Linked DNA regions of Homo sapiens. The protein of the gene in region 1 interacts with the protein of each later gene in a pairwise test. Each region holds a gene or a part of one and is shown in the gene's direction. Other genes may lie near its edges. The genes, in order: TARS2, ASB6, PLIN3 and SYPL1.

Region 1 (7,031 bases):
AGGCATGAGCTGCTGTGCCCAGCCTTTTTTTTTAAGCTTGTTACTTTTTAGTGGTCACCCCCAAAATCTAGGATCCCCATTTTGTGGTAGTTATTCCTAGAAGAACCATACCGGCTTTCCTACCAGCTTTTGTGAGGAAGAGCTCAGAGATCTAGGGGTTAAGGGAGAAGTTTATGAACTTGTGAACCCCTTTTTTGTGAACCCAGGTGTTCTGGCACTCCAGCACCCATGTCCTGGGGGCAGCAGCTGAACAATTCCTAGGTGCTGTTCTCTGCAGAGGTCCAAGTACAGAATATGGCTTTTACCATGATTTCTTCCTGGGAAAGGAGAGGTGAGTAATGAAAGGAAGGAGGAGAATGATTCTGGGATGGTTTCTGAGGCTCTTTTCAGGGGCCTTGGGCATGCTCCATTTGGATGAGGAAGCTGGAGGAGAAGGGTTTCTCTAGGTCTCAACTATGACATTAGTATCTCCTTCTGTGCTAGTCCATGTCCCTCTTCTAACTTTGCTTGAAATTTACCTTCTTGGCTGGTGCACATGTAGTCCCAGCTACTTGGGAGGCTGAGGTGGAAGGATCACTTGAGCCTGGGAGGTTGAGGCTGTGGTGAGCCATGATCTTAACCACTGCACCCAACTTGTGTGACACAGCAAGACACTTTCTCAAAAAAAAAACAAAAAGAAAAAGAAGAAACAACTTACTTTGTTACTTGTTAGCTTTCATAAATTCAAGTTTTACTTAATCGCCCTCATTACTATTGTTCTAACTTTGTCTATCCAGATTTCCTGCATTCAACTTTTAACTTCATGCATAGAGCTTTTTCTCCAGCTGTAATATCTGTTACCTGATATCCTATTTATATTTTCTCTGAGTTTGTCTGTCTTTGCCTATAACTCTAGATTTCTCTTGAAGGACAGGACCTTACCCGCTAGCCAACAGGTGTGTCACCCAGGTGATTGATGCACCTCATAGGATGCAACCCAACCAATTCTCCTCTTTCCAGGACAATCCGGGGCTCAGAGCTGCCTGTTTTGGAGCGGATTTGCCAGGAACTTACAGCTGCTGCTCGACCCTTCCGGAGGCTAGAGGCTTCACGGGATCAGCTTCGCCAGTTGTTCAAGGTGGGGTGGAGGGAAGAGGTGGCTCTTCCAGGACATCTTTGTGGGAATAAACACTTTTCTTCAATCTCCCTTCTACCTTTTTCCAGGATAACCCCTTTAAGCTTCACTTGATTGAGGAGAAAGTGACAGGTCCAACAGCAACAGTATATGGGTAAGAGTTGTCAAGATTAAGGCAAACAGAGAGGTGGGGAAGCATTGAAGAAGGCCAGAAATGCGATAAGGGAAGAAAGATAGAAGGTAATTTGTGTTGCTCCAGAAAAAGAAATGGGAATGGGAATTGATTTTTTTTTTTTCTTTTTTTGAGACGGAGTCTTGGTCTGTCTCCCAGGCTGGAGTGCGGTAGCACGATCTCGGCTCACTGCAACCTCCGCCTCCTGGGTTCAAGTGATTCTCCTGCCTTAGCCTCCAGAGTGGCTGGGATTACAGGCATGTGCCACCATGCCTGGCTAGTTTTTTTTTTTTTTTTTTTTTTTGAGATGAAGTCTTGTTCTGTCACCCAGGCTGGAATGCAGTGGCGCGATCTCGGCTCACTGCATCTCTGCCTCCCGGGTTCAAACAATTCTTCTGCCTCAGCCTCCCGAGTAGCTGGAACTACAGGCATGCACCACCATGCCTAGCTAATTTTTATATTTTTAGTAGAGACGGGGTTTCACCATATTGTCCAGGCTGGTCTCGAACTCCTGACCACGTGATCCACCCACCTTGGCCTCCCAAAGTTCTGGGATTATAGACATGAGCCACCGCGCCCTGCCAGGGAATTGATTTTTATCTGCCATTGCCCTCTCTCAGTAGGACAGTTCCTTTCTCTTCACCTCTTCTGTCAGCTAAAGACCATGAGAGGGAGAAAGCTAGAAGCTGAAGATTCTGAAAATCACTAACTGGCCTCTTCTTTCTCCTAGGTGTGGCACATTGGTTGACCTTTGCCAGGGCCCCCACCTTCGGCATACTGGACAGATTGGAGGACTGAAGCTGCTATCGGTCAGTTGTGGGACAGAGTTAGGTTAAGATTCCTATTTTGAGCCGGGCATGGTGGCTCACGCTTGTAATCCCAGCACTTTGGGAGGCTGAGGCAGATGGATCATAAAGTCAGGAGTTTGAGACCAGCCTGGCCAATATGGTGAAACCCCGTCTCTACTAAAAATACAAAAATTAGCTGGGTGTGGTGGCACACACCTGTAGTCCTAGCTGCTCGGGAGGCTGAGACAGGAGAGTTGCCTGAACCTGGGAGGCGGAGGTTGTAGTGAGCCGAGACTGCACTACTGCACTCCAGCCTGGGCAACAGAGCGAGAGTCCATCTCAAAAAAAAAAAAAAAAAAATTCCTGGTTTCACTGGGATGAGCAGGAGAATCGGAAGGTGATACTTTCTGTCGGCACCCCCCTTTTTTTTTTTTGAGACCAAGTCTCTCGGTCGCCCAGGCTGGAGTGCAGTGGCGCGATCTTGGCTCACTGCAAGCTTCGCCTCCTGGATTCAAGCAATTCTCCTGCTTCAGCCTCCCGAGTAGCTGGGATAATAGGTGTGCACCACCATGCCCAGCTACTTTTTGTATTTTTAGTAGAGACAGGGTTTCACCATGTTGGCCAGGGTGATCTCAAGTGATCTTCCCTTCTCAGCCTCCCAAAGTGCTGGGATTACAGGCATGAGCCACTGAGCCTGGCCCTGTACTCTCATAAGCTGAGCGGGGAATACAGGAGAAAGAAACTTTGTCCCCACATTCTAAAAACCCGTTTGATGGCACACACTGGACAGCCTGCTAGGGCCCAGAAGCCAATTCAGATGCCCTAATATGATGTCAGTATTAAGGGGGGTGGAGGGGTGGAGCAGGAGGGTGTGAGCAAGCTGGATGGGTCATACAGGGAAGGGTTGTAGAGAGAGGGGGCGTGGTCCAGGAGGAAGATGAACACCATTTGACAGGCACAGGGAAAATACCTTTAGTAAAGGGCATGCTTTTTATGAAAATACCGTTCTGCATGGTGGCTCACGCCTATAATCCCAGCACTTTGGGAAGCCGAGGTGGGTGGACCACCTGAGGTCGGGAGTTCAAGACCGGCCTGACCAACATGGAGAAACCCCGTCTCTACTAAAAATACAAAATTAACTGGGCGTGGTGGCACATGCCTGTAATCCCAGCTACTTGTGAGGCTGAGGCAGGAGAATCACTTGAACCTGGGAGGTGGAGGTTGTGGCGATCCAAGATCGTGCCATTGCACTCTAGCCTGGGCAACAAGAGCAAAACTCCGTCTCAAAAAAAAAAAAAAGAAAAGAAAATACTGTTCTGGACAAGAAGAGTTACTAGATGGAATGGGATGAGTTACAAGGGAGCAAGGGGAAATGCAGATGTGTAGAGCAAAAAGCTCTGAACTTAGACTGGGCATGGTGGCTCATGCCTATAATCCCAGCACTTTGGGAGGCCAAGGTGGGTGGATCACTTGAGATCAGCCTGGCCAACATGGCAAAACCCCATGGCGCGGTGGCCTTGGGTAAATCTTACTTATTTTCCCCATCTATAAAATGAGGCTATTAATTCCTTTTTGTCCTACCAGTAAATTCACCTCATAAAGATAATGAAAACCAGGCCAGGCATGGTGGCTCACACCTGTAATCCCAGCACTTTGGGGAGGGTGAGGCAGGCGGATCACTTGAGGTCAGGAGTTCGAGACCAGCCTGGCCAACATGGTGAAACCCTGTCTCTACTAAAAATACACAAATTAGCTGGGTGTGCTGGCCTACGCCTGTAATCCCAGCTACAAAAAAGGCTGAGGCAGGAGAGTCACTTGAACTCTGCCAGGAGGCAGAGGTTGCAGTGAGCTGAGATTGTGCCACTGCATTCCAGCCTGGGCCACGGAGCGAGACAACATCTCAAAAAAAAAAAAAAAAAAAAAGATAATGAAAACCAACTAATTCAGGAAAAAGGAAAAGTTAAAAAGTGCTGTAAAATACAGACTGTCGGCCAGGTGCGGTGGTTCACACGTGTAATCCCAACACTTTGGGAGGCCAAGTTGGGCGGATCACTTGAGCTCAGGAGTTCAAGACCAGCCTGGCCAACATGGTGAAACCTCGTCACTACTAAAAATAAAAAATTAGCTGGGCGTGGTGGCATGCACCTGTAGTCCCAGCTACTCGGGAGGCTGAGGCAGGAGAATTGCTTGAACTGGGAGGCAGAGGTTGCAGTGAGCCAAGATTGCACCACTGCACTCCAGCCTGGGCAACAGAGTGAGACTCTGTTTCAAAAAATATACATATAGGGGCTGGGCGTGGTGGCTCACGCCTGTAATCCTAACACTTTGGGAGGCTGAGGCGAGTGAATCACGAGGTCCAGAGATCGAGACCATCCTGGCTAACACCGTGAAACCCCGTCTCTACTAAAAATACAAAAAATTAGCCAGGTGTGGCCGGGCGCAGTGGCTCACGCCTGTAATCCCATCACTTTGGGAGGCTGAGGCAGGCGGATCATGAGGTCAGGAGATCGAGACCATCCTGGCTAACACGGTGAAACCCTGTCTACTAAAAATACAAAAAATTAGCTGGGCGAGGTGGCGGGCGCCTGTAGTCCCAGCTACTTGGGAGGCTGAGGCAGGAGAATGGCGTGAACCCTGGGGGGTGGAGCCTGCAGTGAGCCAAGATCACGCCACTGCACTCCAGCCTGGGCGACAGCGAGACTCCGTCTCAAAAAAAGAAAAAAAAAATTAGTCGAGTGTGGTGGTGGTGGCCTGTAGTCCCAGCTACTTGGGAGGCTGAGGCAGGAGAATGGCGTGAACCTGGGAGGCGGAGCTTGCAGTGAGCCGAGATCGCGCCACTGCACTCCAGCCTGGGTGACAGATGTATATACACACACACACACACGTATAGACTGTTTCTCATTAGTACTGTTTAACAGTTTTATTTTATTTCATTTTTATTTTTTTGAGACAGAGTCTTGCTCTGTTGCCCAGGCTGGAGTGCAGTGGCCTGATCTCGGCTCACTGCAACCTCTGCCTGCCAGGTTCAAGCAATTCTCCTGCCTCAGCCTCCTGAGTAGCTGGGTTACAGGCACGTGCCACCACACCTGGCTAATTTTTGTATTTTTAGTACAGACAAGGTTTCACCATGTTGGTCAGGCTGGTCTTGAACTCTTGACCTTGTGATCCACCCACCTCAGCCCCCCAAAGTGCTGGGATTACAGGTGTGAGCCACTGCGCCCGGCCTCTCATTAGTACTTTTTTGTTTGTTTGTTTGTTTGTTATTTTTTGAGATGGAGTCTTGCTCTGTCGCCCAGGCTGGAGTGCAGTGGTGCGATCGCGACTCACTGCTAGCTCCACCTTCCGGGTTCATGCCATTGTCCTGCCTCAGCCTCCCGAGTAGCTGCGACTACAGGCACCCACCACCACACCCAGTTAATTTTTTTGTATTTTTAGTAGAGACGGGGTTTCACCATGTTAGCCAGGATGGTCTCGATCTCCTGACCTCGTGATCCGCCCGCCTCGGCCTCCCAAAGTGCTGGGATTACAGGCGTGAGCCACCGCGCCCGGCTCATTAGTACTGTTAAAGGAGAGAGCAGGCAGAGGCTTTTGGATTTCATGTGGCCAGGAATGGGATATGGTATAGAAGACTGACTTTTCTAGCAGCTGTATAGGATATTGATAAATGGAGGAATAGACTGACATTTGACCAGAGCTTATGGTTATTCCTCTAAGCAGTCATTGATTAGAATGGGAAGGAACTAAGTAAAGGGGTAATGAGAATGGGGAGAAAAAGAGATGGCAAGGTAAGGTTAGGCCTGACCAGGTTGTATGTAGGAATTAAGAGTCAGGCAATTTCAACACTTTAATCTAGAAGAATGGTGTCTAGAGGATGGAGGTGTTCATCCTACTGGTGGGATTGTTGTCAAGAGGCATACCTGTGACACTTAACACTGAGAGTATCATTTGAGTCTTGAAAAAGGTGGGGGCCTTCAGTCCTCATCTTTCCTTTGATCCCCTATGTCCTCACACAGAACTCATCATCCTTATGGAGGTCTTCAGGGGCCCCAGAGACACTGCAGAGAGTGTCAGGGATTTCCTTCCCCACAACAGAATTGCTGAGGGTCTGGGAAGCATGGAGGGAGGAAGCAGAATTGCGGGACCACCGGCGCATTGGGAAGGTACAGGAATTGGGAAGATAGGGAGGGATGGTGATAAGGGTTGGAGAGAGATGACAGAACCTGATTATGAAATTGGGAGCAGATTCAGTCACACAGACTGAGCAGCTCCGTCAGTTGTTCTGAGTTCCAAAGCCACCTCCTTGCCCTTGAGGTGACCCAATATTGCTATTCCTGACCCCAGGAACAGGAGCTCTTCTTCTTCCATGAACTGAGCCCTGGGAGCTGCTTCTTCCTGCCACGAGGGACAAGGGTGTATAATGCACTAGTGGCGTTTATCAGGGTAAGGGGACCCAGGTCTAGAGGAAAGAAGACCAGGGAGGGGCTGAGGGACTAGAAGAAGCTAAGGTGTTTGTGTTAAAAGATGGGGGTTGGGGCCGGGCACAGTGGCTCACATCTATAATCCTAGCACTTTCGGAGGCTGAGCCGTGCAGATCACCTGAGGTCAGGAGTTCGAGACCAGCCTGGCCAACATGGCAAAACCCTGTCTCTACTAAAATAAATACAAAAAATTAGCCAGTGTGGTGGCAGCGCCTGTAGTCCCAGCTACTGGGGAGGCTGAGGCAGGAGAATCCCTTGAACCCAGGAAGGGGAGGTTGCAGTGAACTGAGATTGAGCCACTGCACTCCAGCCTGTGTGATACAGTGAGACTCCGTCTTGAAGAGAAAAAAAAAGGTGGGGGGGCTGGTTTGGAATCATAAACATAAATATTGAAAGTGCTGGTGACCTTTAATACTACAATTGTGTGGTCTGCAGTCGGGGAGCATAGAGATGGGACCTGGTATTTAATAGGTTGTGGT
Region 2 (5,078 bases), on another chromosome or scaffold:
CCAGGCACCTTGTGGGGGACACCCAGGGTGCCCCAGGACAACAGCTAGGTGGGCAGACTGGATGCTGGCCCTGGCTGGTGGCACAGCATGGCTGGGCACACAGGGATTCTGCTGACTTGCTGAGCTCAGAGGCTTCAGAGAGGCAGTGCAGTCATTGTCCCTGTGCTGGCCCTCAAGGGCCTTCTATAGGAAGAAATAGGGCATGTGTGCACTTAGTTTCCAAGAAACAATGGCTTCCCATTGGGAGAGGCCCAGCCAACATCTCAGGTAGCATCTTGGGGTCCAGAAAAATCCTACCTTTCCTGGCCTTTCCGCTCCCACTTCTCTGGGTGGAAAGGGAATGGCCAGAAGCCTGTCACCCTCAGCCCTCACCTGAGCTGAGAGTTGTCTCTGAAAGTTCATCTTCTGATCCTCTGAGTGTCTGGATTTCTGCCACCTCCTCTGGGTTGCCCTGACCTGGGCTTCCTGGCCTCCTGCTCCTCCTTGCTCTCCCTCCCTCCCTAGGAAAAACTGCTCTGCTCCATGCTCTGGCCAGCAGCGACGGGGTGCAGATCCACAATACTGAGAACATTCGTCTCTTACTGGAAGGAGGTGAGGCTGGCGCGCTCCTAGGCCTCGTCCTCTCACCCGCCCCTTCGATGTGTGCTGTTGCTTTGCCAGGGTTGAAGGCCTTCTCCCAGCATCTCTTGTTCTATGGCTCTTCTAGGGGCAGACGTCAAGGCCACCACCAAAGATGGGGACACAGTGTTCACCTGCATCATCTTCCTGCTTGGTGAGACCGTGGGAGGGGACAAAGAGGAGGCCCAGATGATCAACCGCTTCTGCTTCCAAGTCACACGGCTGCTGCTGGCACACGGGGCCGACCCCAGCGAGTGCCCAGCCCACGAGTCCCTCACCCACATCTGCCTGAAGAGCTTTAAACTGCACTTCCCTCTCCTGCGCTTCCTCCTGGAGTCCGGAGCCGCCTACAACTGCTCCCTGCACGGTGCGTCCTGCTGGTCTGGCTTTCACATCATCTTTGAGAGGCTCTGTTCCCACCCAGGCTGCACGGAAGACGAGAGCCATGCGGACCTCCTGCGCAAAGCTGAGACTGTCCTGGATCTCATGGTGACCAACTCTCAGAAACTCCAGCTGCCCGAAAACTTCGATATCCACCCTGTGGGCAGCCTGGCGGAAAAGATCCAGGCCCTCCACTTCTCCTTGAGGCAGCTGGAGAGCTATCCCCCGCCCCTCAAGCACCTGTGCCGTGTGGCCATCCGGCTCTACCTTCAGCCGTGGCCTGTGGATGTGAAGGTCAAAGCCCTGCCTCTGCCCGACAGGCTGAAGTGGTACCTCCTTAGCGAGCACAGTGGCTCCGTGGAAGATGACATCTGATAGGTCTCAGGCTACAGGAACGGGGGACACGGGCAGCTCAGGTCAGCCTGTTGGTAGATGCTGGGACAGCATTAGAAGAGGGTCTTTTTGATCTGGGAGATGAGACGGGATCCTTCATGAGAAAAGCCAGCCAGGTAGAGCCTGAAGCTGTGATCACTCCAGTGGTGAAGGGTGCAGCTCTGGTTCTTCCAGAGAGACTGCCCCCTTCCCTCCAGCGGCACTCCAAGTCCCCCCCATGTTGGAAAGAGGAACAGGGCTTGGATTGATGTTTATACCCTCTGAATTGGAGGGCAGTGCCAGGGCATTTGCAGAAGCTGGGAAGGACCAAGCCTCAGCACCCCAGGGCTGCGGGGCTCTTGTTGGCCGCACGTGGCAGTGCAGCTGGAGAGGAAGCCTGGGGCACGTCCTGTGCGGTGCCACCAAGGCCCCACCCCTGCCCCTTTTCCTTCCAGGTTCTGTTACTCACAGAAGTGTTTCTGGTGGGCTCTGCGGGAGAAGACACTAAGGGCCCCACAGGCTTGTTTCATGGTGTTGCAAGCCAAGCTGGCCCCTGCCTGTTCCTGTAGCTCTGGGGCCAGGTCAGCCGTGGCCCCACCTACCAGAACTGTGCTCTGCTGGCAGCTGTGCTTTTGCCAAACCCAGGGCCTCAGCGACCATGACTTCTGCTAAAAAGCAATCATGAGTGCGTGGCTGGGGACAGACCTCTCTGAAGTGTCTCCTGTTGTGAGGGGCTCACTTTGGAGCCACTGAAGAGCCGACTGTGCCACCCACTTGCGAGCCTCAGTCCCTTCCAAGCTGCACTGGTCATTGGGAATTGTGTAAACACCTCTGGGGATAAGCTGAGGTGACTAAATGATATATTTATATTATAAGATTAAACTGACTTTCTTGGCCTTAACAAGGTCCTTATATAAAATTTCCACCCCGCCCCTCCATAGTTCAGGATAGAGGCTCCCACAGCAGCCGGTAAGGAAGTGGGTGGCAGGTGTGAGGGGATGCTGTGTTTGGGGGGTTGTTTCCAAGTCCCTGCAAAGAAGCACCACTCTAGACTGGCAAGGGCCTCCACAGTGTGGAGGTCCCATTTTATTATTTTTTTTTTTCGAGACACTCTGTCACCCAGGCTGGAGTGCAATGGTGCAATCTCGGCTCACTGCGACCTCTGCCTCCCAGGTTCAAGCAGTTCTCCTGCCTCAGCCTCCTGAGTAGCTGGCATTATAGGTGCCCACCACCATGCCTGGCTGATTTTTGTATTTTTAGTAGAGACGGGGTTTCGCCATGTTGGTCAGGCTGGTCTCAAACTCCTGACCTCAGGTGATTCGCCTGCCTCGGCCTTTCAAAGTGCTGGGATTACAGACATGAGCCACTGTGCCCGGCCCCCATTTTATTTTAGTTTTATTTTGAGACAGAGTCTCGCTCTGTCACCTAGGCTGGAGTGCAGTGGCGCAATCTCACCTCACTGCAAGCTCTGCCTCCCGGGCTCACCCCATTCTCCTGCCTCAGCCTCCTGAGTAGCTGGGACTACAGGCGCCCGCCATCACGCCTGGCTAATTTTTTTTTTTTTTGTATTTTAAGTAGAGACGGGGTTTCACCTGTTAGCCAGGATGGTCTCAATCTCCTGACCTCGTGATCTGCCCGCCTCGGCCTCCCAAAGTGCTGGGATTACAGGCGTGAGCCACCGCGCCCAGCCCCATTTTATTTTTTACTTTAAATGCCTGCCAAGGAGCAGCCTCAAGCCCAGAGAAGACTGAGGCTACGGGGAACTTCCCTTGCTGCAGGCTGTTGTAACACTTTAAGGGCCCCAGGTCTCCACTGCCAAGCAGGACTTGGCACATGAGCACCCACCCCACAGCACCATCAGGCAGCACCCATGGGCTCCACCAGCCCAGCTCTGTCCCTCCCCTAGGTAAAGATCACACTGAAGTCTTCAAGTCCCCAGCAACCAAGTTGGGGGTGGTTTCCTTCCTCTTCAGGCAGCCAGGCCCATGGCTGGAAGGCCGGGCTGGAGGCCCAGGGAATCGGTTACTGATGTGGCCACCCTATTCCCACATGGGGAGCACCAGGAGCCCTGGAGCCCCTTCCACCCAATCCCATCTCGCAGGAGAGCAGGGTCTGGGCTCCTGCCTCACCGCTGGTTCAGCAGCACCCTCCCCGCCGGGTCCCACCTTGCCTTTTGAAGAAGAGCCCGCATAATGAGTGGACGGCAGACAGCTATATTTAGTGGTGCCTCGACACTCACGAACCGCCAGCGTGGCGCCTGGATCTTGCCCAGCTGCCAGCTCCCCCCACCAGGACTGTGGTTCCTCAGTTTCTCCTGCCAGCCCCGGCTCATCTCAGGGCAAAGCTATAGACATGGTAGATCTCATCGGGGAGGTTCTCCTGCCTCTCCTCGGCCAGGAGGCTGAGGCCTGCACTGCAGATGATCCTGCGGACCACGTCAAGGTCCCGGCACACGCTGCTGTCCACGTCGTCCAGAATCACGCCCTCCTGGGCCATGTTGTCTTTGATGACGATGATGCCGTTGGGGCGGAGGCTGCCCTTGCAGCGCCGCAGGAACTCGGCCAGGTGCTGATCGGTGAGGTGGCCTGGGGAGGGCAGAGGCAAGGTTACCAGGGCACCATGCAAGCGGATGTCGGCACTGGATGGGATGTACTTCTCAGCCCCGCTGAGCCCCTCATTTGTGCCCAGCATTTTGTGTGCACACATGGCCTCATTGGCTCTCAGTCCCGAGAGATTTACTAAACCCCAATTCATAGAATAGGAAACTGTGGCTCAGAGGTCATCTACCTAAAGACACATTAAGCCAGAATTTGACTTGACGGGATGGCTTACAAGTCCTGCCTGATACCTACACACCATGATGCCCCACCCCTGCCAGGCTTGGATCGGAGGAGTGAACCTGGGCTAAGAGTTTGGCATTGCAGGAGCTCCCAGAGAGACTGCCTTCCCTACACTAGAAGTCCCCACAAAGGCTTCTGAGACCACAAAATACAAGGCCAGACCTAGAGTGTCCACAGCAGGCCTGTGCTGCCCGCCTCAGGAGGTGGCCGACTGCTGCTAGCGGCCTGCCGCCACGTCAGCAGCCCAGGGCACAGCGCTCGAGGTGTGCTGTTAGGCTAAGAGGGTGCAGGGCTAGACACGAAGCTTAAACTATTCATCTTATTAAAAATAAAACCCTTATAAAACTCCTCACTTTGAATGCAGTAAGTTATTGGCCATTAAAATTTTTTCAACAAAAAACTGCACCCAAATGGATGGTAGCAGGTATTCAACTGAAACAAAACCTAGAAGGAAGAAATCTACCTTTTAGGCCGAGCCTGTCCCTCAGTCCTGGGAAGTACGGGGTGGGGGTGGGCCTGGGCGGGGTGGGGAATCCTCACTGGCCCACTTGCTGCAGGAGTGCAAAGCCCTGGTCCTGACACCTTATGGGGAACGCGAGTGGCAGGAGACATACAGGTGAGCAGGGAAGGGCGGTGGAACCCTCACCTATCACCCACTGGATCCAGATCACGTCGTAAGAGTCCGGCTCCGGGGTGAAGTCCTGGAGCCCACAACAGAAGTAGTTCCTCACCCTCTTGCCCTCCTCCCCCAGGTAGGTCTTGGCTTGAACCAGGAAGTCCTCCGTTATGTCGACCATATCCACCTCTCTGAACAGCGGCAGGAGCAGCCGCTTGGTGATCCTCCCAATGCCAGCTCCACAGTCCAGG
Region 3 (7,031 bases), on another chromosome or scaffold:
TGGCAATGCTGACCTGGGGTTAACACCTGAAGGCCCAGAACAGCACATGGCTTGTAGCAAATGTTGGCTCTTAACATTAAAAAAAAAAATTTTTTTTTTGAGACAGGTTCTCACTCTGTCACCCAGGGTGGGGTGCAGTAGTGTGATCATGGCTCAACTGCAGCCTTGAACTCCTGGGCTCAAGTGATCCTCCCATCTCAGCTTCCCAAGTAGCTGGGACCACAGGCATGCACCACCATGCCTGGCTATTTTTAATTTTTTGTAGAGACGAGTTTTCACCATGTTGCCCAGGCTGTTCTCAGACTCCTGGGCTCAACAGATCCTCCTGCCTCAGCCTCCTGAGTAGCTGGGACTAGGTGCATCCACCACGCCTGGCTAATTTTTGTACTTTTTGTCAAGACGGAGTCTCGCCATATTGCCCAGGCCGGTCTCCAACTCTTGGGCTCAAGCAATCCTCCTGCCTCAGCCCCACAAAGTGCTAGAATTATAGGAGTGTGCCACTGTGCCCTACCTCAGTTTCCCTTAATCACCGCTTTTTAAAGACCCTGTCTCTAAATACAGCCACATTCTTACCCCTGGGGATCAGGACTTCAACATAAGAATTTGGGGTTGAGGGGGCCATAATTCAACCTATAACAGCCTGGGATGAAAAAATGAGGCACAGACCAGGCGTGGTGGCTCACGCCTTACTCCCAGCACTTTGGGAGGCCGAAGCGTGCAGATCACTTGAGATCAGGAGTACGAGACCAGCCTGGCCAACATGGTGAAACCCTGTGTCTACTAAAAATTCAAAAATCAGCCAGGCGTGATGGTGAGTTCCTATAATCTCAGCTACTCGGGAGGCTGAGGCACGAGTATCACTTGAACCTGGGAGGCAAGAGGTTGCAGTGAGCCGAGATCGTGCCACCACGCTCCAGCCTGGGCAACAGAGCAAGGCTCTGTCTCAAAAAAAAAAAAAAAAACACCCTCCTTCAGATAAGTGTGAGGCTTAATCGGTTATTGTTTGTCTCCCCAGCTGGGACCAGGGCACAGGCTGCCTGCTTTGTGGCTGTGTCCAGTGCCCAGCAGGCAGCCTGGCACAGGGTAGATGCTTATTTTTTTAGTTTTTTGAGACAGAGTGTTGCTCTTGTTGCCCAGGCTGGAGTGCAATGGTGCGATCTCGGCTCACTGCAACCTCCGCCTCTCGGGCTCAAGCGATTCTCCTGCCTCAGCCTCCCGAGTAGCTGGGATTACAGGCATGCACCACCATGCCTGGGTAATTTTATCTTTTTAGTAGAGATGGGGTTTCTCCATGTTGGTCAGGCTGGTCTCGAACTCCCAACCTCAGGTGATCTGCCTGCCTCGGCCTCCCAAAGTGCTGGGATTACAGGTGTGAGCCACCGCGCCCTGCAGATAGATGCTTATTAAGTATTCAGGTGCTCCATGTCCGCTTCAGCCCAGTGGTTACAGAAGGGCCACCCTCGGGTACCACCTGCTTGTGTCTGGGTCTGTAGCATCAGAAATAGGTGATCCCTGGGTTGGAGGCAGGACAAGCCAGCCGCATCCCAGCATCCTTGGACTTTCCCTGAGACCACCTGCAGGGACAGGCAGCTTATTCATCCACTTGCTATTGAGTGCCTACTGTATGCCGGGGAGCTGTGCTGTCCCATCATGGTTAGACTTCCTCACCTCCCATTTATGCAGAAATGGCCTTAGCTGGGAAACAGCAGAGCGGTTGTCAACTTGCATTTTTTTTTTTTTTTTGAGACAAGGTCTTGCTCTGTAGCCCAAGCTAGAGTGCAGTGGCGTGATCTTGGCTCACTACAGCCTTGACCTCCTAGACTTAGGCAATCCTCCCAGCTCTCAGCCTCCTGAGAAGCTGGGACTACAGGTGTGCACCACCACACCTGACTAATTTTTTAATTTTTTGTAGGAATGGGGTCTTGCTATATTGCCCAGGCTGGTCTCAAACTCCCAGGCTAGCCAGGCACGGTGGCTCACGCCTGTAATCCCAGCACTTTGGGAGGCCGAGGCGGGCGGATCACGAGATCAGAACAACAGAGCGAGACTCCATCTCAGAAACAAAACAAAAAACAAACTCCTGGGCTCAAGCAATCCTCCTGCCTGCCTTGGCTTCCCAAAGTGCTGGGATTATAGTTGTGAGCCACTATGCCCAGCCATGCCTACACCTTATCAGCAAAGGCCAATAGTGGGCTTGGCTGAGGGGGGATGGAAACTGCTGAGCTTACAGGAAGATGGGAAACGTCAACCAGGAGCCCCCGTCTCAGGGCCAAGCCCTTGCTTCCCTTTCTCTCCCACTGATAGCGTAGGAGGCCAACAGTCTTTCTGTTTATAGAAGGGATAAGCTCAGGGTGAATTCTTCAAGGTCACTGAACAGAGCAGCAGCTGGGAGCTTTTTTTTTTTTTTTTTTTTTTTTTCAGATGGAGTCTCGTTCTGTTGCCCAGGCTGGAATGCAGTGGCGTGATCTCAGCCCACTGCAACCTCTGCCTCCTGGGTTCAAGTGATCCTCCTGCCTCAGCCTCCCAAGTAGCTGGGATTATAGGCGCCCATCACTACGCCCAGCAAATTTTTGTATTTTTAGTAGAGATGGGGTTTCACCATGTTGGCCAGGCTGGTCTCGAACTCCTGACCTCAGGTGATCCAGCTGCCTTGGCCTCCCAAAGTGCTGGGATTATAGGCGTGAGTCACCGTGCCCGGCCAATTTTTGTATTTTTTGTAGAGGTGAGGTCTTACTATGTTGCCCAGGCTGTTCTCACACTTCTGGGCCCAAGCGATCCTCCCACCTCAGCCTCCCAAAGTGCCGGGATGACAGGTGTGAGCCACCGTGCCTGGCCTGCTGTGAGCTCTTGACTTTTTGAGAGGTGCAATGCTCTCTCAATTCTGGGCCCTATGAGTTTTTTCCCCCTTTGTGAAGAGGTAACTTTCCCCAGGTTCTGGGGGACGGTGGTGTTGTCAGAGCTAGATTTTAATCCGGGCCAGTGTGAGAACGTGCGTGTTCACTGAGTAGTGGGGCTGTTAGAACCTGACTCTCATCGGGGGCGTTGGCTCATGCTGGCTCACACAGTGAAACCCCGTCTCTACTAAAAATACAAAAAATTAGCCGGCCGTGGCAGTGCACGCCTGTAGTCCCAGCTGCTGGGGAGGCTGAGGCAGGAGAACCGCTTGAACCTGGGAGGTGGAGGTTGCGGTGAGCCGAGATAGTGCCACTGCACTCCAGCCTGGGTGACAAGAGCAAAAACTCTGTAAAAAAAAACAAAAACAAAAACAAAAAACTTGACTCTCACACCCTCTTCCCCCACAAAAAGATGAACTCTCATGAGTACAAGAGGACTGAGTCTTCAGGGAAGCACCAACTTGGGTAGGAATGGGGCAGGTGTGGTTTTCAACTTTGCGGAGAGCCCTCTGCATAGAGATCTGTCTAAAGACTTAGCTTCAGCTGGACACAGTGGCTCATGTCGGTCATCCCAGCACTTTGGGAGGCCAAAGCAGGAGGACTGCTTGAGGCCAGGAGTTCGAAACCAGCCTGGGCAACATGGAGAGTCCTTGTCTCTACAAAAAATAAAAAAATAAGCCGGGTGTGGTGGTGCGTACCTGTAGTCTCAGCTACTTGGGAGGCTGAGGTGGGAGGATCGCTGGAGCCGAAGAGGTCAAGGCTTGAGTAAGCTATGATTGCACCACTGCACTCCAGCCTGAGTGACACAGTGAGACCCTGTCTCAAAAGAAAAAAAAAAAAAAGACTTAGATTCGAGAACAGCAGGTATTGACAGATGAGCGCTCACCATGTGCTGGGTGGGGCGTAGTCAAAGGATTCCATGCAAAGCTTTTTTTTGTTTGTTTGTTTTTGTTTTTTTTTGGAGACAGAGTCTCTCTCTGTCACCCAGGGTGGAGTGCAGTGGTGCAGTCTCGGCTCACTGCAAACTCCACCTCCCGGGTTCAAGGGATTCTCCCGCCTCAGCCTCTTGAGTAGTAAGGATTACAGACATGCACCACTGCACCCGGCTAATTTTTTGTATTTTTTGTCTCTACAAAAAATAAAAAATAAGGCTGGGCGCAGTGGCTCATGCTTGTAATCCCAGCACTTTGGGAGGCCCAGGCAAGTGGATCCCCTGATGTCAGGAGTTCAAGACCAGCCTGGCCAACATGGTGAAACCCGTCTCTACTAAAAATACAAAAATCGGCTCGGCATGGTGGCATGTGCTTGTAATCCCAGCTACTTGGGAGGCTGAGGCAGGAGAATCACCTGAACCCACGTGGCAGAGGTTGCAGTGAATCGAGATTGCACCATTGCACTCTAGCCTGGGCAACAAGAGTGAAACTCCGCCTCAAAAAAATTAATAAATAAATAAAAATAAAAGATAAAAAATAGCCACGAGTGGTGGTACGTGCCTGTGGTCACAGCTACTCGCTGGGGAAGCTGAGGTGGGAGGCTCACTTGAGCCCAGGAGGTGGAGTTTGTAGTGAGCCGAGATTGTGCCACCGCACTCCACCTGGGTGACAGAGGGAGACTCCATCTCAAAAGAAAAAAAATTAAATTGAAAAAAAAAAACAAAAAACAGGCAGAGTGCAGTGGCTCATGCCTGTAATCCTAGCACTTTGGGAGGCTGAGGTGGGCGGATCACTAGGTCAGGAGTTTGAGACCAGCCTGACCAACATGGTGAAACCCCATCTCTACTAAAAATACAAAATTAGCCTGGCGTGGTGGCGCATGCCTGTAATCCCAGCTACTCGGGAGGCTGAGGCAGGAGAATCGCTTGAACCCAGGAGGCGGAGGTTACAGTGAGCCGAGATCACACAATTGCACTCCAGCCTGGGCAACGAGAGTGAAACTCCATCTCAACAACAGCAACAACAAAAAACAATTAGCCAGGCATGGTGGCGGGCACCTGTAATCCCAGCTGCTTCGGAGGCTGAGGCAGGAGAACTGCTTGAACCCGGGAGACAGAGGTTGCAGTGATCTGAGATGGTGTCACTGCACTCCAGCCTGGGCAAGAGAGCAAGACCCTGTCTCCAAAAAAAAAAAAGAAAGAAAGAAATGAGGTACAGGGAGGTAGAGTGACTTTCCTGAAGCCACACAGCTGAGAAGTAGCTAGCTAGGAACGGAGCCTAGGTAGTCTGGCTGCAGAGTATGAGGTCATGCCCACAACTCCAGACTCAGGGTCACCTGGGGGATGGCGCTCCCTGCCTCAGTCTCCCTGGAAGTTGGGGTGCAGGGGAGGGGTGCCCACATACAGAGGGAAGACGGAGATGCTGGGGTCACCCGGGGGATGGCGCTCCCCGCCTCGGTCTCCCTGGAAGTTGGGGTGCAGGGGAGGGGTGCCCAGATATGGAGGGAAGGCAGAGATGCTGATGCTGTTGCATCTCCTAGGTCCTGGCGGACACCAAGGAGCTTGTGTCGTCTAAGGTGTCGGGGGCCCAAGAGATGGTGTCTAGCGCCAAGGACACGGTGGCCACCCAATTGTCGGAGGCGGTGGACGCGACCCGCGGTGCTGTGCAGAGCGGCGTGGACAAGACAAAGTCCGTAGTGACCGGCGGCGTCCAATCGGTCATGGGCTCCCGCTTGGGCCAGATGGTGTTGAGTGGGGTCGACACGGTGCTGGGGAAGTCGGAGGAGTGGGCGGACAACCACCTGCCCCTTACGGATGCCGAACTGGGTAAGTGTGGCCAGCGGGCTGCTCTGGGACCCCTCCCCAGGCCCCCTGACCGGAAGCCGCTGTCGGCCTCCTGGGGTCTGTGCCGACACTCACTGCCGCCTCGTCCCTGCCACTTCTCCCGGGCATCTTGGAATCTCATCACTAACGCAGTCCCCTCTGTCCTGCTCACCAGCTCCCGCCCTCATCCACCACAGTCTCCTCCCCACAGCAGCCACCAGAGGGCGCCTGTGACCACCTGAGTCAGAACCCGTCCCTCTGCCCACAGCCCTCCATGGACCCCACCTCCCCTGGGGTCAAAGCCCAAGTCCTCGTCACAGCCCACAAGGTCCTGCACAACCTCCCCTGTCCTCTCCCCGCCCTCCTCCTCTTCCCCCTTCGCCACTCCGCTCCTGCATAAATACGTGACTAAACTTGAGATCTCACTGAACTGTGACAACAATGCTGGTGTTCCCGCCAGGCCAGACATCCCACTCCAGTCATCTCGGTCACATATTCGCACTCCCTGCACTGTTTATTTGATATTCTTCTTTAATTAATTTATTTATTTATTTAGAGACAGAGTCTCGCCCTGTCACCTAGGCTGGAGTGCAATGGCGTGATCTCAGCTCACTGCAACCTCTGCCTCCTGGGTTCAAGCGAGTCTCCTGCCTCATCCTCCTGAGTAGCTGGGATTACAGGCACCTGCCACCACACAGCTAATTTTTTGTATTTTTAGTAGAAACGGGGTTTCACTATGTTGGCCAGGCTGGTCTCGAACTCCTGACCTTGTGATCTGCCCACCTCGGCCTCCCCAAGTACTGGGATTACAGGTGTGAGCCACCATGCCCGGCCCTTTTTTATTTATTTGTTTTAGAGATAGAGTCTCACTCTCTTGCCCAGGCTGAAGTGCAGTGGTGCGATCATAGCTCAATGCAGCCTCCAACTCCTGGGTTGAGGCGAGCCTCCCATCTCAGCCTCCGAGTAGCTGGGACTACAAGCACACACCATCACGCCCAACTAATTTTTCTTTATTTAATTTTTGGTAAAGACGGGGTCTCCCTCTGTCATCCCAGCTGATCCAGAACTCCTTGGCTGGAGTGATCCTACTGCTTTAGCCCCCCAAAGTGCGGGGATTGGGATTTTTGCAAATAAGTAGCTTAGGATATAGGCAGGGCGCGGTGGCTCAGCCTGTAATCCCAGCACTTTGGTGGGCCGAGGTGGGCAGATCACCTGAAGTCAAGAGTTTGAGACAAGCCTGGCCAACATGGTGAAACCCGGTCTCTACTAAAAATACAAAAATTAGGCCGGGCACGGTGGGTCACGCCTGTAATCCCAGCACTTTGGGAGGCCAAGGCCGGGCGGATCACAGGTTCAGGAGATCGAGACCATCCTGGCTAACA
Region 4 (7,031 bases), on another chromosome or scaffold:
CCGGAGGTCAGGAGCTCGAGACTGGCCTTACCAACATGGTGAAACCCCGTCTCTACCGAAAATACAAAAATTAGCCGGGCATGGTGGCAGGCACCTGTAATTACCCCTGCTACTCAGGAGGCTGAGGAAGGAGAATTCCTTGAATCTGGGAGGTGGAGGTTGCAGTGAGCCAAGATTGCACCATTGCACTCCAGCCTGGGTGACAGAGCGAGACTGTGTCTCAAAAAAAAAAAAAAGTTGTAATCTTTTTATAACTGAGTCTCAGAAAAGACATCCCATTTCTTCTACAGTACCATATTCTATTCTGTAGAAGCAAGTCACTACATTTAGTTGACACTCAAGGGAAGGGAAATCAGGCTCCATCTCTTGATGGGAGTTGTATCAAAGAGTTTGTGGGCATATCTTTAAAACCACCACATTCCTTTCCTCCGTGATCTACAAATCAACTCTGTTAGATACAATTTGTCTTATACACACTAGTCTATTCCTGGCCTTTTTATTCTGCTCCATTGGTTCAATTTGTGTATCTCATTTCTTTTCTTTTTTTTTTTTTTTAATTTAAACGTGGGTATATGCTCAGGACTCATTTTCTGGCCTTTTCACTCTGTGTATTCATGCATATTTATTCTGAGAGAGTATTGATTCTTCCATCTTTACCTTCTTTTTTAACATAAAACATTATTTAGTACAAATAATGAAAAATGATTTCATGACACATTTTCCAAGGAAAGTTACTTTTACATATTTTGAAATCCTGTAAAAACTGGGGATCACCTCTTAACAGTTAAGACCCCAAACTATGTGCTGGACATTACCTCAGACTCTTCCTATCTGTAACCAGATTCTTTTCATGTATCTTTTTTGTGGGGGGGGGGGGGGGGGGGGGGGGGGGGGCGGATGGGAAAAAACAAACCCTTGACAATTACTATAATGTGGATTATGGCCTACAAGATTCAAGGCCCTGGAATAATCCATGGGAAGCATTATGTCAAGTGTTCCACAGTGAATATTTGATATCAAATCTGCATTGAATATTATCTACTACCAGTTGCTGAGTGTGTGTGACCTTGAACAAAACGAAGCCCCTGACCTCTTCAAGTTTCTATTCTAGGGAAAGACAGACAAATTAAGTACTGTGTCAAGCAGTGGTAATTAGAACAGAGCAGAAATAGAGTAGAGGGAATAGGTAGTGCGGGGTAGGAGTGCTGTTATTTGATATAGTGTGGTGAGGGGAAGGTCTCTCTGAGAAGGTCATACTGGAACAGGAAGCTATGGAAGTGAGGGAGTGAAGCATGTATTCCAGGCAGAGGAAATAGCCAGTGCAAAGGTCCTGAAGGAAGAGTTTATCCCGTGTCATTAAAGGTATCGCATGGAAAGCAGTTTGTGTATACAGATTAGGTAAAGGAAAAAGTAGCAACATGAGGTCAGAAATATAAGGGAAGAAAGGATCTTGCAGGCCTTTATATGAACTTTGGTTTTTATTCATAGAGAGCTCAAAAGCCATTGGAGGGTTTTGAGCAAAGGATAACATTTTCTGCCTTACATTTTTAAAAGATTGTCTTGGCTGTTGTGTTGATAACAGACTGAAGCTGGGGCAAGGGCAGAAGCAGAGAGATCATTTAGAAGGCTGTTAGTGCAAAATTCAGGCAAAAGGTGATGGTAGTTCAGATCAGGAGGCAGTACAAGTGGTCAGATTGCAAATGTATTTTGAAAATAGAGCCATCACCACTTGCTGAAAGATTGAGCTCCTGGACTTTAACAGCGCATCTGGAATTTTTTGCTTACTTGTGTTGTTTTGTAGAAAATTCACAAGTACAAAAATAAAAAGGAATTATTTATCTTCCTTTGAGAGGTGACCAGTGTTAAAATTTTGATGCATAACCTTTCTAGTTTTTGTTGTTTAAATCTACTTTGTATGTAATGAACACTTTCTATGTTGTTAATCTCCAACATTCTATGTTGTTAATTTCCAACAGCTATATAATGTTTCATTGCATGAATGAATGAATGGATGAATTATAGTTTGATTCCCTGTCAACATTTAGGTTGCTTCTAGGTTTTTTGTGTTTTAGATGGTATTTGAGAGAACACCATTCATTTTTTTAAGCATATACATGATTAGGAAAATAAGTTTCCAACAACTTTTTGAGACCTGGAAATACCCACAAGGGAGGTTTAACAGGCTCATGAAATAGTGTCTCTTCTCTGCTGACAACCTCTTGGCTTTACAAATTACTGGTAACTTGTGTTCCAAATAAAAATACCTCCAATTCACCCCTTTTGATTTTATACTAATAAATGAGTCTCCCTCTATATTTCATACTAATACTTAGTGGATACACTAAAGTATGAGCAAATGAATTGTCATATGGGCTGGTACATTTATTTCTATATTATACTCCGGGGAAAATAAAATCACATTTGTCGAGGTTTGCAAATGAATGTTTTAATGTCTTTCACCATCTTAGTTTGTGTTTAAGAATTTCTAGAATGTAGCCAGGCATGGTGGCACACTCCTTAGTCCCAGCTACTTGGGAGGATCACTTGAGAGTTCAGGGCTGCAGTAAGCTATGATTGTGCCACTACACTTGAGTCTATACAACAGAGTGAGACTCATCTCTTTAAAAAAGGGTAGTGGGGGCTGGGCACAGTGACTCACACCTGTAATCCCAGCATTTTGGGAGGCCAAGATGGGAGGATTGCTTGAGTTCAGGAGTTCAAGCCCAATCTGAGCAACATAGCGAGGCCTCATCTCTACTAAAATTCAAAGAAAAATTAGCCAGGTGTGGTGATGCACACCTGTGATCCAGCTGCTTGGGGGACTGAGGTGGGAGGATCACTTGAGCCTGGGAGGCCAAGGCTGCAGTGAGCCCTGATCGTGCCAGTGTACTCCAGTCTGGGCGACAGAAACCCTGTCTCAAAAAAAGAATTTCTAGAATGTTAGCCAATTTTTAATAATCAGTGTGCTTACAGTTTTAGTGACCCTTGTTTTGGTTGTAGTATTGCTTATCTTTTTTTTCTTTTGTCTTTTTTCATCTTACTTTGTGTAGATTGCTTCTATCTTTGCTTTTGCCACCTGTGGAGGTTTTAAGGGCCAAACAGAAATTCAAGTGAATTGTCCTCCTGCAGTTACTGAGAATAAAACTGTTACAGCTACTTTTGGTTATCCATTCAGGTGAGTTATATTTATTTTAATGGTTTCACAACTCTTTTTACTTTCACAGTGAGTCATTAAGATTTCCAGCAATTTATTGATTGTGGGGGGTAGAAAATTTTAGACTGTATGCTCATTTGTAAGTGATCATTACCTCCCAAACTGTGGTACACAGACCCATGCCTGTCTAAAAACATCTCCTGATCTGTGACAAAATAGTACAGAAAGTGAGAGTAAGCATTTAGAAACTTTTATAACAATGTGATGTTGCCTTGATAATTTTATTCTAACAGAGGATTGGAAATGTAAAAATAAAGCAAACTAGAGATTGTTCTATCACCTTAGTATAAGAAGCCCTAATGTAGAAGGAAACATAACTTAGAAAAATCCAGATTCTCAGTGTTTTTTGTAATTGCTGAATATTAATGTCTTTATATAGTTTTAAGACATATGTATATAAAGAGATTCCATATTTCATTCATTAGCATAAAGCCACACTTTCTTAAAGTAAAATGAGTATTTCATCTGTGAAGTCTTGTTTGACATCAGTATCCATTGAAAAGTTTATTGAATATGTCCTGTGTTTAAGCCAGGGTGGGAATCTTCTTTCACTTACTAATTTTACTTACTTCACCCAAGACTCAATTTTTTGGTCCAGTAATTGGAAGTATTATCTTGTAAGGCTGTTTTGATGATTAAATAAAATCCCCATATTAAAGATAAGTCAGATAATAAGTGGTTAATCATCAAAGCCTCTCTATCTTGTATCCTTTCTCCTAGACACTTCTCACATAAGGGACTGTTACAGCATCTTTAGTGACAAGTTTTTTACAATTTATGGTTGGGAAAAATGAAAGGCAATATTTATTGTTAGCAACTATTGATCCAGGGTTAAAAATGTGAATCATTGTTGTGATTGGCTCTCTTGGGGCTAGTCACACATACTCTGCCACACAGAATGAAATATGATGTCTCAAAGTATAAACCATTTGGTATAATCTCTCCTACCTAATTGTTTACTGCAGGAAGATAGTATCTGGGTATGAAAGTATTTAATTCAGTCTATATTCAATGTATCATAAACTAATACCAGGTATAACATATACATTTATTATGAAAATTTCAGTTTACTTAAATATAATATTTGAATTTTACTTTTTTCCCCAAAGGAATGTTTTTAATATATTTGGGGAGTATTTTTTGAAGTGTCACTCATTGTTTTGCTTAAATGTTTCTGTCTCTGTTGGGAAAGTCCAATAATTCATACATTTATTTTAATAGGTTGAATGAGGCATCATTTCAGCCACCTCCAGGTGTAAACATATGTGATGTAAATTGGAAAGATTACGTCCTCATAGGCGATTACTCTTCTTCTGCACAATTCTATGTTACCTTTGCAGTCTTTGTGTTCCTGTACTGCATTGCTGCCCTTCTGCTTTATGTTGGCTACACGAGTCTGTATCTGGATAGTCGTAAACTTCCTATGATAGTAAGTAATCACTTTATTTTTTAAATACAAAAATAATTTGTATAAGCTAAATATAGATTTTCTTATACTGGAAATAAAAATTCTTGGTGTAAGCCAGTTCAGCATATTTTAGCCTGTGTTTGCCACGAGGTTGAGCTTTCTCCCATTAAGTTTAACTCAATTTTTTTTAGCCTATTTGCACTATAAGGAAAGTTTATTTCTTTTTTAAATCTATTTTAACTTGGAAAAAACTCAGATATGTAATAAAGCACATCAGGTTACAAATAGCAAAAAAATTAAGTCGAAATTCTTTTAATTTGAAGAATTACTTATCACAACATAGTCTCATAACTCTTTCTGCTTCTTACTTTTTTTCTTTCTCTAAAGGCCCACTTTATACTTCTACAAAACTTATTGAGTTTAATTATATCATGGGTTCACAAACTATGTCCCAGAGGTCACTGTCTTATTTTTTATTTTTACTTCTTTATTTATATATTTACTTTTTGAGACAAGGTCTCGCTTTGTCGCCCAGGCAGGAGGGCAGTAGCACCATCTTGGCTTGCTGCAGCCTCAACCTCCTGGGCTCAAATGATCCTCCTGAGTAGCTGGGACTACAGTCACAAGCCACCATACTCAGTTACTTTTTGTGTATTTTTGTAAAGACGAAGTTTTACCATGTTGCCCAGGCTGGTCTCAAACTCCTGGGCTCAAGTGATCTGCCTGCCTTGGCCTCCCAAAGTGCTGGGGGTTATAGGTGTGGCCAGGAGCCTGGCCTTGTTTTTTTAAATAAAGGTTTTTTTTGGAACTCAGCCATACACAATCATTTACACATTGCCTATGGCTGCTTTCACACTGCAATGGTAAAGTTGAGTAGTTGTAACAGAGATAAAAAATAGTTGCTATTTGGCCCTTTTCAAAAGAAGTTTGTTGATTCCTGGTCTATGTCCCTAAACTCCTTAATTTAAAATCAGACCCAGGTAATTCTTATACTCAGCATTAGTGGCAACCATGAACTAATTTTGAATCTTTGAGGTATCAACAAAGGACTTAGATTTGAAGTCCTATACTTTTGGCTTCAGAGCCTACTGAGCTAGAAATATTCTCTGAGATTTAGTTAGTAGAATCTGCCCTGGATTATTGGTGGCAAATCCAGAGAGAAATCATGGTTTTAAGCTACACCTCCACTATAAAAGAGTAACTACAAAGTCAGTTATTAGTGACTTAAAGGGAAAACAGAGGTGTTTTTTATGTGTGATACTGGTCATTCATATGTATGAGAAAACACATCTGCTAATTATTTGTGAAGTTACTTTAAAGGGAAGGCTATTTAAATATGAAGGATTATTAAATAACATTACAAGTTTTATTTACATATTTATTTTTAATTTTGCTGCTGGATCATAAGAATGGAAATGGTAAGTAATACAACAGTCTTTTATCATTCATATTTAATTCTGTTTCTTATGTCATAGGAGACACAAGAAAACTAGAGGTTTTCATAAAATACTTCTCGGTTGTTAAAAAGATAAGACGTCAACTGTTTTAATTTGCAGTGCTTATCCAACATACTTGTTAGGAATCTGTGTCTTCTGCAGACTTTTCAAATCTTATTTAAAAGGGAACTGGAATAATCTTATAGATAATTATATTTTGTTAAAATTCTTTATAACTAGAAGCTATTTCTTGCCATTTTGTCATCCCAACAAATTTTTTTACTAAATCTATCAGTGTGCCCTTTATTTCTCATATTTTGTCTAGTAAACTTTTAAAAATACTACCCTTCTTAAAGCAGCATTCCAATCTATTTTTGTAGGTGGTTTTTGTCTGATAAAACTATAAAACTGACCTAGTTGCATCATTCAGAAACGTAAAAAGTAATTTTCCACCTCAGAATGACCAATTAGTGGTCATATAAAGAGATAATCCAAAATTCCTTAAGTAGGTTTTTATTGTTACATAATGGGTGCTTCTTGTCTATAAAAGTCTAGCTTCTAAATTTAATTTTCAGTTCTATTTTTAATGTAACCATAAAAATATTAAAAGATTTTCTTTGAGAGACTGGGTGCAGTGGGTCATGCCTGTAATCCCAGCACTTTGGGAGGCCGAGGTGGGTGGATCACTCCAGGAGGTCAGGAGTTCGAGACCAGCCTGGCCAACATGGTGAAACCCCATCTCTGCTAAAAATACAAAAATTAGCTGGACATGGTGGTGGGCACCTGTAATCCCAGCTACTGGGAGGCTGAGGCAGGAGAATCGCTTGAACCCAGGAGGTGGAGGTTACAGTGAGCCAAGATCACACCACTGTATTCCAGCCTAGGTGACAGAGCAAGACTCCATCTCAGGGGAAAAAAAAAAAAAGGTTTTTTTTGAGATACCCAAAATTTAAGATATAGCCAAATATGACAT

Evidence for each region.
Region 2: the proteins of TARS2 (region 1) and ASB6 interact in binary tests that used the Homo sapiens proteins (3 or more experiments, as listed by UniProt).
Region 3: the proteins of TARS2 (region 1) and PLIN3 interact in binary tests that used the Homo sapiens proteins (3 or more experiments, as listed by UniProt).
Region 4: the proteins of TARS2 (region 1) and SYPL1 interact in binary tests that used the Homo sapiens proteins (3 or more experiments, as listed by UniProt).

The regions. Positions count from the first base shown.
Region 1 is NC_000001.11:150,490,395-150,497,425, forward strand, and holds part of TARS2 (threonine--tRNA ligase, mitochondrial), read left to right. Parts: intron 1-206; coding exon 207-331; intron 332-999; coding exon 1,000-1,117; intron 1,118-1,203; coding exon 1,204-1,268; intron 1,269-1,950; exon of another isoform or gene 1,951-2,016; coding exon 2,017-2,095; intron 2,096-6,087; coding exon 6,088-6,234; intron 6,235-6,415; coding exon 6,416-6,514; intron 6,515-7,031. UniProt on the Homo sapiens protein: Catalyzes the attachment of threonine to tRNA(Thr) in a two-step reaction: threonine is first activated by ATP to form Thr-AMP and then transferred to the acceptor end of tRNA(Thr). Also edits incorrectly charged tRNA(Thr) via its editing domain.
Region 2 is NC_000009.12:129,634,086-129,639,163, reverse strand, and holds the end of ASB6 (ankyrin repeat and SOCS box protein 6), read left to right. Parts: intron 1-504; coding exon 505-591; intron 592-706; coding exon 707-1,374; 3' UTR 1,375-3,699; coding exon of another isoform or gene 3,700-3,956; 3' UTR 3,957-4,559; downstream 4,560-5,078. Other genes in the region: NTMT1 (N-terminal Xaa-Pro-Lys N-methyltransferase 1), read right to left, coding at 3,700-3,956, 4,858-5,078. UniProt on the Homo sapiens protein: Probable substrate-recognition component of a SCF-like ECS (Elongin-Cullin-SOCS-box protein) E3 ubiquitin-protein ligase complex which mediates the ubiquitination and subsequent proteasomal degradation of target proteins.
Region 3 is NC_000019.10:4,850,637-4,857,667, reverse strand, and holds part of PLIN3 (perilipin-3), read left to right. Parts: intron 1-5,366; coding exon 5,367-5,652; intron 5,653-7,031. UniProt on the Homo sapiens protein: Structural component of lipid droplets, which is required for the formation and maintenance of lipid storage droplets. Required for the transport of mannose 6-phosphate receptors (MPR) from endosomes to the trans-Golgi network.
Region 4 is NC_000007.14:106,095,302-106,102,332, reverse strand, and holds part of SYPL1 (synaptophysin-like protein 1), read left to right. Parts: intron 1-3,050; coding exon 3,051-3,175; intron 3,176-4,435; coding exon 4,436-4,643; intron 4,644-7,031.